Homo sapiens: one gene and its partners. The protein of the gene in region 3 purifies or fractionates together with the protein of the main gene of each other region. This does not show direct contact. Each region holds a gene or a part of one and is shown on either strand. Other genes may lie near its edges. The genes, in order: UBAP2, RABL6 and CDKL5.

Region 1 (3,650 bases), on a different chromosome or scaffold from region 3:
CGAATCTCCAGCCTCCATCTCCCGAGTAGCTCGGATTATAGGTGCCCGCCACCACGCCTGGCTAATTTTTTGTATTTTTGGTAGAGATGGGGTTTCACTGTGTTGGCCAGGCTGGTCTCAAACTCCTGACCTCATGATCCGCCCACCTGAGCTCCCAAAGTGCTGGGATTACAGGCATGAGCCACCACCCCAGCCTACTGTTACTTTTTTACAATAATTTTACCTTATATGTATATCCGTAAGCAACATATGGTTTAATAGTGCCCATTTTCAGTCTTATTCTCAATGTAAGAATTGTATGATTCTTCTGATGCTTGATTCTTTCACTCTTACATGCTTGAGATTTATCCATGTTGATTTCTTTTTTTTGAGATAGGGTCTCAGTCTGTTGCTCAGGCTGGAGTGCAGTGGCTCGATCCTGGCTCACTGCAACATTCACCTCCCGGGTTCAAGCGATTCTCCTTCCTCAGCCTCCCAAATAGCTGGGACTACAGGTGCCCGCCACCATGCCTGGCTAATTTTTGTATTTTTTGGTAGAGACGGGGTTTCCTTGTGTTAGCCAGGCTGGTCTCGAACTCCTGACCTCAGGTGATCTGCCTGCTTCGGCCTCCCAAAGTTCTGGTATTACAGGCATGAGCCACTGCACCCAGCCCCCATGTAGATTTCTTTTTTCTTTGTTTTGTTTTATAAGACGGAGTCTTGCTCTTTTGCCCAGGCTGGAATGCCAGTGGCACGATCTCGGCTTCTCAGCTCACTGCAGCCTCTGCCTCCTTGGTTCAAGCAATTCTCCTGCCTCGGCCTCCCGAGTAGCTGGGATTACAGACACCTGCCACCATGCTCAGCTAATTTTTGTATTCTTAGTAGAGACGGGGTTTCACCATGTTGGCCAGGCTGGTCATGGACTCTTGTTTGTTTTTTTTTTTTTTTTTGAGATGGAGTTTGCTCTTGTTGCCCAGGCTAGAGTGCAATGGTGCGATCTTGGCTCACTGCAACCTCTGCCTCCTGGGTTCAAGCAATTCTCCTGCCTCAGCCTCCCAAGTAGCTGGGATTACAGGCAGGCACCACCATGCCTGGCTAATTTTTTTTTTTTTTTTTGCATTTTTAGTAGAGCTGTGGGTTCACTATGTTGGGCAGGCTGGTCTCGAACTCCTGACCTCCAGCGATCTGCCCACCTCGGCCTCCCAAAGTGCCGGGATTACAGGTGTTAGCCATCGTGCCCGGCCCGTTGATTTCTTATAGTAGTATGAGGTTACATTGTAAGGATGTGCCATATGTTGTCTATTTCATTGTTGATGGATATTTGTCTCATTTCCAGTTTTTTGAGATTACCAATTTTACTTGTCCTCATGTGGACATTTGCCACCCTGCCCACAACAAACAAAGTCCATTTTCTCAAGACTACATAACTGAGAGTGGAATTTTTGGTTTGTATGTAGGGTATGTGTAACTTTTACTAAGTAATGCTAAAGTGTTTTCCACATGTTGCACAGTTGTTCTCAGGCTTGTCAGCTGAACCACAGAACACAGAAAGTTGAGTTACTATTTTCTCAAATCTGTCAAGGATGGTACATAATGAATTTCATTCTAGGTGTCTGGAAAAAGTTCAGCTTATACACAGAGTGGATGCCCTAAGAATTGGGAATTCATTCTCAAAGACTGAGTGGTTTAAGAGTTCTACATCCTTGCCAACATTTTATGTTGCCTTTTTAGTTTTAGCCAATTGTAGTGGGATGTTCTAGATATATCTTTCATGAACGCCACATAGCTGGATTTTGCTTTGTTAAGTTAGCAACTTGCTAACTTCTTTTTAATTAATTAGAGTGTATCGCTATGTTGGCTGGGCTGGTCGTGAACTCCTGGGCTCAAGTGATCTTCCCACCTCACCCGCACAAAGTGCTGGGATTGTAGGAGTGAGCCATCAGCTAACCTCTTTAACTAGAGCATGGAGACCATTCATATCTGTTGTAATTACAGATATTTTGGATATATGTCTGCCATTATATTTAGTCTTCTAGTTGGCTGGCCTGTGTGTTTGTTTTCTGTCCCTTTTTTTTTTTTTTTTTTTTTTTTGAGACAGAGTCTCATTCTGTCACCCAGGCTGGAGTGCAATGGCGTGGGCTCGGCTCACTGCAACCTCCGCCTCCCGAGTTTAAGGGATTCTTCTGCCCCAGCCTCCCTAGTAGCTGGGACTACAGGCACGTGCCACCACACCTGGCTAATTTTTTTTTTTTTTTGAGACGGAGTCTAGCCCTTGTCGCCCAGGCTAGTGTGCAATGGCGTGATCTTGGCTCAACGCAACCTCCGCCTCCTGGGTTCAAGTGATTCTCCTGCCTCAGCCTCCCAAGTAGCTGGGATTACAGGCATGTGCCACCATGCCCCCGGCTAATTTTGTACTTTTAGTAGAGTCGGGGTTTCTCCATGTTCATCAGGCTGGTCTTGAACTCCCGACCTCAGGTGATCGCCCGCCTCGGCCTCCCAAAGTGCTGGGATTACAGACGTGAGCCACCGTGTGCGGCTTGTATTTTTTTTTTTTTTTTTTTTTTTTTAGTATTTATTGATCATTCTTGGGTGTTTCTCGCAGAGGGGGATTTGGCAGGGTCATAGGACAATAGTGGAGGGAAGGTCAGCAGATAAACAAGTGAACAAGGGTCTCTGGTTTTCCTAGGCAGAGGTCCCTGCGGCCTTCTGCAGTGTTTGTGTCCCTGGGTACTTGAGATTAGGGAGTGGTGATGACTCTTAACTGCCTTCAAGCATCTGTTTAACAAAGCACATCTTGCACCGCCCTTTATCCATTTAACCCTGAGTGGACACAGCACATGTTTCAGAGAGCACGGGGTTGGGGGTAAGGTTATAGATTAACAGCATCCCAAGGCAGAAGAATTTTTCTTAGTACAGAACAAAATGGAGTCTCCTATGTCTACTTCTTTCTACACAAACACAGCAACAATCTGATTTCTCTATCTTTTCCCCACATTTCCCCCTTTTCTATTCGACAAAACCGCCATCGTCATCATGGCCCGTTCTCAATGAGCAGTTGGGTACACCTCCCAGATGAGGTGGCGGCCGGGCAGAGGGGCTCCTCACTTCCCAGAAGGGGTGGCCGGGCAGAGGCGCCCCCCCCACCTCTCGGACGGGGCGGCGGCCAGGCGGAGGCGCCCCCCAACTCCCCAACGGGGCGGCTGGCCGGGCGGGGGCTGCCCCCCACCTCCCTCCCGGAAGGGGCGGCTGGCTGGGCGGAGGCTGCCCCCCACCTCCCAGACGGGCCGGCTGCCGGGCGGAGACGCTCCTCACTTCCCAGACGGGGTGGCTGCCGGGCGGAGGGGCTCCTCACTTCCCAGACGGGGCGGCTGCTGGGCGGAGGGGCTCCTCACTTCTCAGACGGGTCGGCCGGGCAGAGACGCTCCTCAACTCCCAGACGGGGTCGCGGTCGGGCAGAGGCGCTCCTCACATCCCAGATGGGGTGGCGGGGCAGAGGCGCTCCCCACATCCCAGACGGGGTGGCGGGGCAGAGGCGCTCCCCACATCTCAGACGATGGGCGGCCGGGCAGAGACGCTCCTCACTTCCTAGACGGGATGGCGGCCAGGAAGAGGCGCTCCTCACTTCCCAGTCTGGGCAGCAGGGCAGAGGGGCTCCTCACATCCCAGACGAT
Region 2 (3,650 bases), on a different chromosome or scaffold from region 3:
TATTTTTAGTAGAGACAGGGTTTCATTATGTTGGCCAGGCTGGTCTCAAACTCCTGACCTTGTGATCTGTCCACCTCAGCCTCCCAAAGTGCTGGGATTACAGGCGTGAGCCACCAGGCCTGGCCCATGGATACTAGTTTTTAACTCAGGAGCAGACTTGTTAAAGTTCAGGTTTCCAACAAAGATTGAAAGACGTTCCAGCCTGGCCAACATGGTGAAACCCCGTCTCTACTAAAAATACAAAAATTAGCCGGGTGGTAGTGGTACACGCCTGTAATCCCAGCTACTCAGGAGGCTGAAGCAGGAGAATCACTTGAGCCTGGCAGGTGAAGGTTGCAGTGAGCCAAGATTGCGCCACTGCAGTCCAACCTGGGCGAGAGAGTGAGACCCTGTCTTAAAAAAAAAAAAAAGGCACAGTTGGTTCTGTGCTTCTCACTCTCCACTTTGTGTTTCTTGGCTTCAGAAGCTGCTGTTTGGTCATTTCCTTCATTTTCCAGGTGCTTCTTTGACAGACCCTTCCTCCTCTTTGTCGTCTTCATCACTTCATCCTCTTCATCATCGTCACCCTCGTCCTTGTCCTCATCATCCTCTTCATCTTCATTCCCAGCCATCCTCTTGGCTTTCCCAGGAACAGCATTTGTAGAAGCTTTCTTTCCTTTGGCTGGTGTTGTTTCCATAGGTGCTGCTTCAGAGCCATCTTCCTCAGCATCGTCCTCATCGTCCTCGTCCTCATCCCCTGAGGCAGGGGCACCCGCTGCTGCCTTCATCACTGCTGGTTCAGAGTCATCCTCCTCCTCATCGCTGTCTTCCTTCTTGGCGTTCTTGCCGTTCTTTGCCCCCTTGGCTGGGGTGTCCCTTCTTGCCAGGAGCTGCTGCCAGTGCTTTGCCTGCTATGGCTCCCTTCTTGGCAGGTGTGGCGACTGCTTTGCCTGGAGTGACAGTTGCTTTCTTGGTGGGTGTGGCACCTGCAGCCTTTTTTGTTCGGGAAACTGTCACCTTCTTGGCTGGGGTTGCAGCAGCCTTCTTGCCTTTCTCCTGAGGTGTGACAGTCTCTTCTCCACAGCTGTCATCTTCTTCATCTTCTGACATTTCCTCATCTTCACTTCCTCCTTCTGCCTCCTTTGGGGGAGCAGCCATTTTCTTGGGGTCACCTTGGTTTTTACCTGCCTCGACACCAAGTAGTCTGAAGCTGCTGAGGATGGGAAATCTTTGCAGGGTGCAGAGTGGGAGAGGAGCAAGGTGTGGCTGACACCAGCTGCAGCACAGGCTGTCAGGGTGGGGAGGTGGCTGGGCCCTTGTAATGGGCCCAGGAGATGCTGCTGGCACTGTGAGAGGGCCTGGTTAGGAGTTAAACCTTCATGCATCTGAGATAAATCATAAGCTCTTCTTGGTATGAAAATGTAAGAAAATTATTCCATATTTTGCAGGAAAGCTGCAGGAATGTGAAGGAGTTAAATTGAATCAGGGTAAGAAAGGCTCAGGGCCTCAAATAGAGCTCTGTGTTTTCTGCATTGTATCTTCTAAAACAAGCTTAGAACAGAGGTCGTGTTCACATCCCGTTTAGTAAAAGAGCAGGTTTACCATGAGGTTAAGTACAGGTAAGTACAGGGCTTCTTAGCGTTTCTTGGATGAATCCTAAAGGTTTTCCAGGAGAATCACTTAGCTTATTGCAGCCAACATTTAAGATTCTGAAGTTAAGCAGAAAAAAAGAAAACCCAAGATCAAGGGACCAGCAGGAGAAAAAAAAGATTCTGAAATTGATTTTATTTATTTAGGGTCTTGCTCTTTCGCCTGAACTGGAGTGCAGTGGCGCAATCTTGACTCACTGCAGCCTTCACCTCCCTGGCTCAAGCAATCTTCCCACCTCAGCCTCCTGAGTAGCTGGGACTACAGGTGCACGCCACCATGCCTGGCTGAGTTTTGTAATTTTTGTAGAGACAGTGTTTCACCATGTTGCCCAGGCTGGTCTCAAACTCCTGGGCCCAAGCGATCCATCTGCCTTGGCCTCCCAAAGTGCTGGCATTACAGGAGAGAGCCACTGCGACCAGCCTAACTTTTTAACTTAAAAGTAGAGGTTAAGTTGGGCATGGTGCCTCACTCCTGTAATCCCAGCACTTTGGGAGGCCGAGGTTGGTGGATCACTTGAGGTCAGGAGTTTGAGACCAGCCTGGCCAACATGGCAAAACCCTGTCTCTACTAAAAATAACAAAAATTAGCTGGGTGTGATGGGCACATGCCTGTAATCCCAGCTACTCAGGAGGCGGAGGCAGGAGAATTGCTTGAGCCTGGGAGGTGGAGGTTGCAGTGGGTCGAGATCGCGCCACTGCACTCCAGCCTGGGTGACAGAGTGAGACTCTGTCTCAAAAAAAAGGGGGGGGGGGTAATTTTTTAAAATAATTAAATCAGATTATTTTACTTGCCTTATTTCTGATGTTACAGGATTTCTTGTAATTAGCTTTTTTAAAAAAGAGTTTGTGGCCATATAGTAGGTGTGTATATGGGTAATTAGCTTTTAAAAGGAGTAAATTTCATTTCAAGGGAGAGAAAATAAGACTCTTCATTCTCAAAATGTGAAGATAATAGAAAACAAATGTATGTTAAAATTGATAAAGATGTAAAAGGAAGCAATCTTAAGACTAGTCAAGACTGTATGCCCATGATATGTGCAATTATTATGTCAATTATAAATACAAAAAACCATGAGCAGACAGTTTATGTTTGAAAAAGAAACAGAATGAAAACCTCTAGAAATGAAAAACATAGTCATTAACGTTAAATCAGTCAGCAGCAGGAGAAGCAGCACGAGAAGCAGCACTAACTCAGCTGAAGAGAGGAGCAGTGTTGGGAAGAGATGTGCGGCCCAGGGAGGAGGCGATGCCAGCCCATGTCCAGTACAAGTTCCAGAAGGAGAAGAGAGCAAGAAAGGAGAAAGGGAAGACTGAGGACTTTCCAGAGTTCATGAAATACAGGAAACTCCAAGAAGTCCAGAGTTTAAAAACATCCACAGCTAGATACATCATTGGAAATTTTCAAAACATTAAAAAGTAAACATCTTAGATGCAACCAGAACAAAAAGACTTCCCTGAGAGGAGCATGCAGTGGACTGGTGACCAGCTCGCAGCAAACCTGTGGCTGAGGGGAGGCCGACGTGGGCTGAGGGGAGGCCGACGTGGGCTGTGGGGAGGCCGACGTGGGCTGAGGGGAGGCCGACGTGGGCTGTGGGGAGGCCGACGTGGGCTGAGGGGAGGCCGACGTGGGCTGAGGTCTCTGTCTGATGAGCACTTGAGAGCCGTGTGACTGGCTCCACTTCTGCCGAAGCTTGAGGCTCACTGTGCAAAGGCTCTTTTAGAAATAAATACTGAAGGTTATTCTTCAGAGAGGTGGAGTTGAGCTCGAAACACAGGAGTGGATTTCAAAAAGCAAAGGGGGCCGGGTGCTGGCTCACACTTCTAATTCCAGCACTTTGCGAGGCTGAGGCAGGTGGATCACTTGAGGTCAGGAGTTTGAGTCCAGCCTGGCCAACATGGTGAAACGCTGTCTCTACTGAAAACACAAAAATTAGCCGGGCATGAGGGCAGGCGCCTGTAATCCCAGCTACTCAGGAGGCCGAGGCACAAGAATCGTGTGAACCCGGGAGGCACAAGTTGGAA
Region 3 (3,650 bases):
ATGAGATCCCCTGATTAGAGATAGGATGCAACCAGGTAGATGAGCCTGGGCCTTTGATTGGCTGCCGTACCAGCTCTATATGTCTTATCTAGATTTCTAGGCTTTTCCATTAAATAATAATACAGTCTTGTTTGAAAAAACCCGAAGAACAGATATGGCTGGACCGGCTCCTCCTTGCACATGCTTGCCCTTCCTGGCCACACCCAGTCACCTCACCTCTAAGCCCCCTTCCCTCCCCAGCCTTATGGTCGCTCTAACTTGAATCCTGTGTGCATTCTCATCCTTTCTTTCAGAGCCAGCCATTAAAATCACTGCGCAAGTTGTTACATCTCTCTTCGGCCTCAAATCACCCGGCTTCCTCAGATCCCCGCTTCCAGCCCTTAACAGCTCAACAAACCAAAAATTCCTTCTCAGAAATTCGGATTCACCCCCTGAGCCAGGCCTCTGGCGGGAGCAGCAACATCCGGCAGGAACCCGCACCGAAGGGCAGGCCAGCCCTCCAGCTGCCAGGTCAGATGGATCCTGGTTGGCATGTGTCCTCTGTGACCAGGAGTGCCACAGAGGGCCCTTCCTACTCTGAACAGCTGGGTGCCAAAAGTGGGCCAAATGGGCACCCCTATAACAGAACAAATCGCTCACGAATGCCAAATCTGAATGATTTAAAAGAGACAGCCTTGTAATTTGTGCTGGTAGGGGGGAGGGGTGGACAGACAAGCCAGTGGGGAGGGGTGGGAAAGGGTGGGCTGGGCTTGGGGCATGGGCCGGGCCAAGTGGTGAGCCAATATTTTCAGCTTTATGAAGGTGTGTGCAATATTGCATGTGTTGGGGCCGTTGAGCTCCTCGCGGCCACAAATGCTAGTCAGGGATCTTAGAGCCACAGGAGTTCCTTAGGGATCGCCACTCCCCACAGGTCTTGTGTGAGAATAGATAGAGTGTGCCATTGAGGAAGAAGAAATTCTTGCCAGTTTCTCCCCTTTACATTCCAGCTTTAGTGCAATCTCTGTTGAACTTGGGAATGCCAGGATGTGTCCTGGCACTGCAAGGGATAGGAAAGTCGTGTTGACCGATGCCCTTACTACATATTTTTTTCTGCCTAGAGTAAATGTGGGGTTTATTGTAATCCAAGAGTATCCCTTTGAAGGGTTAGCAGATGAACTGTATGTCTTAAATTGTTTTCTAAACTTCCATATTTGATAGGATTTGTAACATTTATTTATAATTAATATTGTACTGTTAAAATCATATCTTTTATGTTATAATGTAAAGTTATTTTGAGCTGTTTGAAACATTGTGAAGCAGTGGGACAGCTACAGTAGTTTCTATAAAAACTAAACAGTAACATTTATATATTGCATCAGGAGTATTTTATTCTATATATAATATATATATATGGTAAATATCTGTTTTATAAATATATTCATTTAAAGAAAGTATCGTTATGACACTATCTGCCATATTTTTATACATTTGTGATATGAAGTGAGTATTATACTTCTACTAAAGGGAGTTGAATTGTGGCTACACGTGACTGTAACAGTATGAACCTTGCTCAACTTTGAGGCCCCAGCAGTAGCCTCTAGACATGATCCTTGGTAGCAGACGAGATGCAGCATCTCTTTCCAAACCTGCAGGGGAAGAAAGTCAGATAGGCCAGTGAGAATTCCAGCAGGCCTGGTTTCCGTCCTCACACACTTGGCTCCTGTTTGTGTCCAGGGACGTTACTTGCACACAGGGGAGAATAGATTGAGGCGTTACTCGTGGGTCTTTGTAGAGAGAATGTGCTCTTCCACTTAGCATTAGTGTAGAGCGTAGACCAAAGATTTGCCAGTGAACATTCCTTGTTGTGAGATCATAAGAGGTACCTGTCTGCAGATCTTGCAAACCATCTCTATGCTCCTGAATATTGTCCACTGTCCCGGAGACTCTTGGCTGATGGGGTGTGAGATATATGTGTGGCATTTCTATTTCTGAATGCCTTTTTTGCTATTGCTCTCTCCAATACCATATTTAAAAGGCTCCTGGAGCAATTCCAGATAGATAAAAAATTACTCTATCCATTTTTTTCTTCCTGGGGCTGTCCACTTATGACAAGATTTTCATGCACACCTGTTACGCACACAACCCCCATCAGAACAGGACCTATCTTCCCCTCATCTGATCTCTTTCAGCTCCCAAGTTACTCCCAAGTATCATCAAACCCTTTGGCCATCAAGTGTTATCCTCCCATGCCTCTGGGTCATCCTTGAGGGAAGTCACCTCAGCACCATCATCTATCAGTAGTAGTAGATTTTTGGAATTAGTCTCTGAGCAATAATACTTTTAAAGGTCCCTCCCACCCCTCAAAGAGATAACTTCTCAGTATTTATTACTTGTCCTCAAATTCTGAGTGTCAGCCCCTGCATCAAGTCAGCTATGATCAAAATGTGCTGTTACTGTTAACCCTCCCCCGAGATTTTGAGAATCATAGCTCTGATGATTATGAAGATTATAAAGACTAAGGTCCTAGTTTCCCTGAAGCTTAAATTGTGCACATATTGCATTTTTATATAAATACTATAATGTGTATTGATTATATAGATAGGTCATTTTAAGGTGCTTTTTATTTAATTTTAATGAGTGTAATAGGCACTAAAATGAAACTCGACTGGGTACTATTACTGAAAAAATTTGACTCAAACCAATAGTTTTGCATGCTCTTTAGTTCTTTTTCTGTCTTACTTCTTTCACCAGTTCAGTACTGTTTGGGTAGCTCTGAATTCTGGCTTTTCCAGGCAGCTGCTTGATGATACAAATGAGGTGGACCATCAGCAGTTTTGCCTGGACACTAATGACTCTAAAAGGGTGTGTATTTAACTCTTCTTTTTCATACTAGATCTCTACCTTGTATTCCCCCCTTGCAAACCAGAAACTACACTTTTTTTCTCTGGAAAGACTTCTCACTGTGCTATGCGCTTAGGAACTGCACGGTCCCGTTGCCATGCTGTGGCATTCGAGGCTCGTCACCTAGGGGCTGGTTTCCCATGTTGTCATCCTTGCTAACACTGGGATCTCAGATGTTTGCAGAACATTTCTATTCATGACGGTTCTTCAAAGAAGGGCTAGAATATTTGCCTTCTACCTAGAGCAAAGTAAACCTAATTGTTGAAGAGTCAATACGTACTTTTTGTACTTTCCCAGATTTGAGCCAGAAAATACCTACAGATATCTACAAATGTTTTCAACCAGTGTTTTCGAGGTAGCTCTTTAATCCTCTTCTCAGCTTTTGTCTGTTCTGACTTTTCATCCAATAAGCTGTAAGTGAACTACAATCTGCATTTCCAGCATGCAATTCTCTTCCTGCTCACGGAGGGGGATGCAAAAGTTTTCTCTCACACCTAATGGGCCCTCTCTTAGCTTTTAACTGTTGTTTTCCCCTGTTGATGAAAAATTACTGACATCACAAAGATTGCCATCCATGGTAGAAAGGACTTGATTTAAAGTCAGAAAAATTTGCCTTTTCTTTAGGAAGGGGAATTCATGACATCCATGTCCTATTATCGGCCGTAACTTCCTAAAGAAGAAAAAGGGTGAATGAAAGCTTATGTTACTTTTATGAAAGTATCACTGATCTCCTTTGGAAAAGAAACTCTGCTTCACTGTTTTTCTACCTT

The links.
Region 1: the proteins of CDKL5 (region 3) and UBAP2 purify together in Homo sapiens (affinity purification with mass spectrometry, with the first as the bait; one large-scale study listed by BioGRID). This does not show direct contact.
Region 2: the proteins of CDKL5 (region 3) and RABL6 purify together in Homo sapiens (affinity purification with mass spectrometry; 2 studies listed by BioGRID and IntAct, with this or other methods). This does not show direct contact.

What each region holds. Positions count from the first base shown.
Region 1 is NC_000009.12:34,038,744-34,042,393, reverse strand, and holds part of UBAP2 (ubiquitin-associated protein 2), read left to right. Parts: intron 1-3,650. UniProt on the Homo sapiens protein: Recruits the ubiquitination machinery to RNA polymerase II for polyubiquitination, removal and degradation, when the transcription-coupled nucleotide excision repair (TC-NER) machinery fails to resolve DNA damage. May promote the degradation of ANXA2.
Region 2 is NC_000009.12:136,814,355-136,818,004, forward strand, and holds part of RABL6 (rab-like protein 6), read left to right. Parts: intron 1-128; exon of another isoform or gene 129-196; intron 197-415; exon of another isoform or gene 416-1,177; intron 1,178-3,650. UniProt on the Homo sapiens protein: May enhance cellular proliferation. May reduce growth inhibitory activity of CDKN2A.
Region 3 is NC_000023.11:18,628,078-18,631,727, forward strand, and holds part of CDKL5 (cyclin-dependent kinase-like 5), read left to right. Parts: intron 1-293; coding exon 294-680; 3' UTR 681-3,650. UniProt on the Homo sapiens protein: Mediates phosphorylation of MECP2. May regulate ciliogenesis.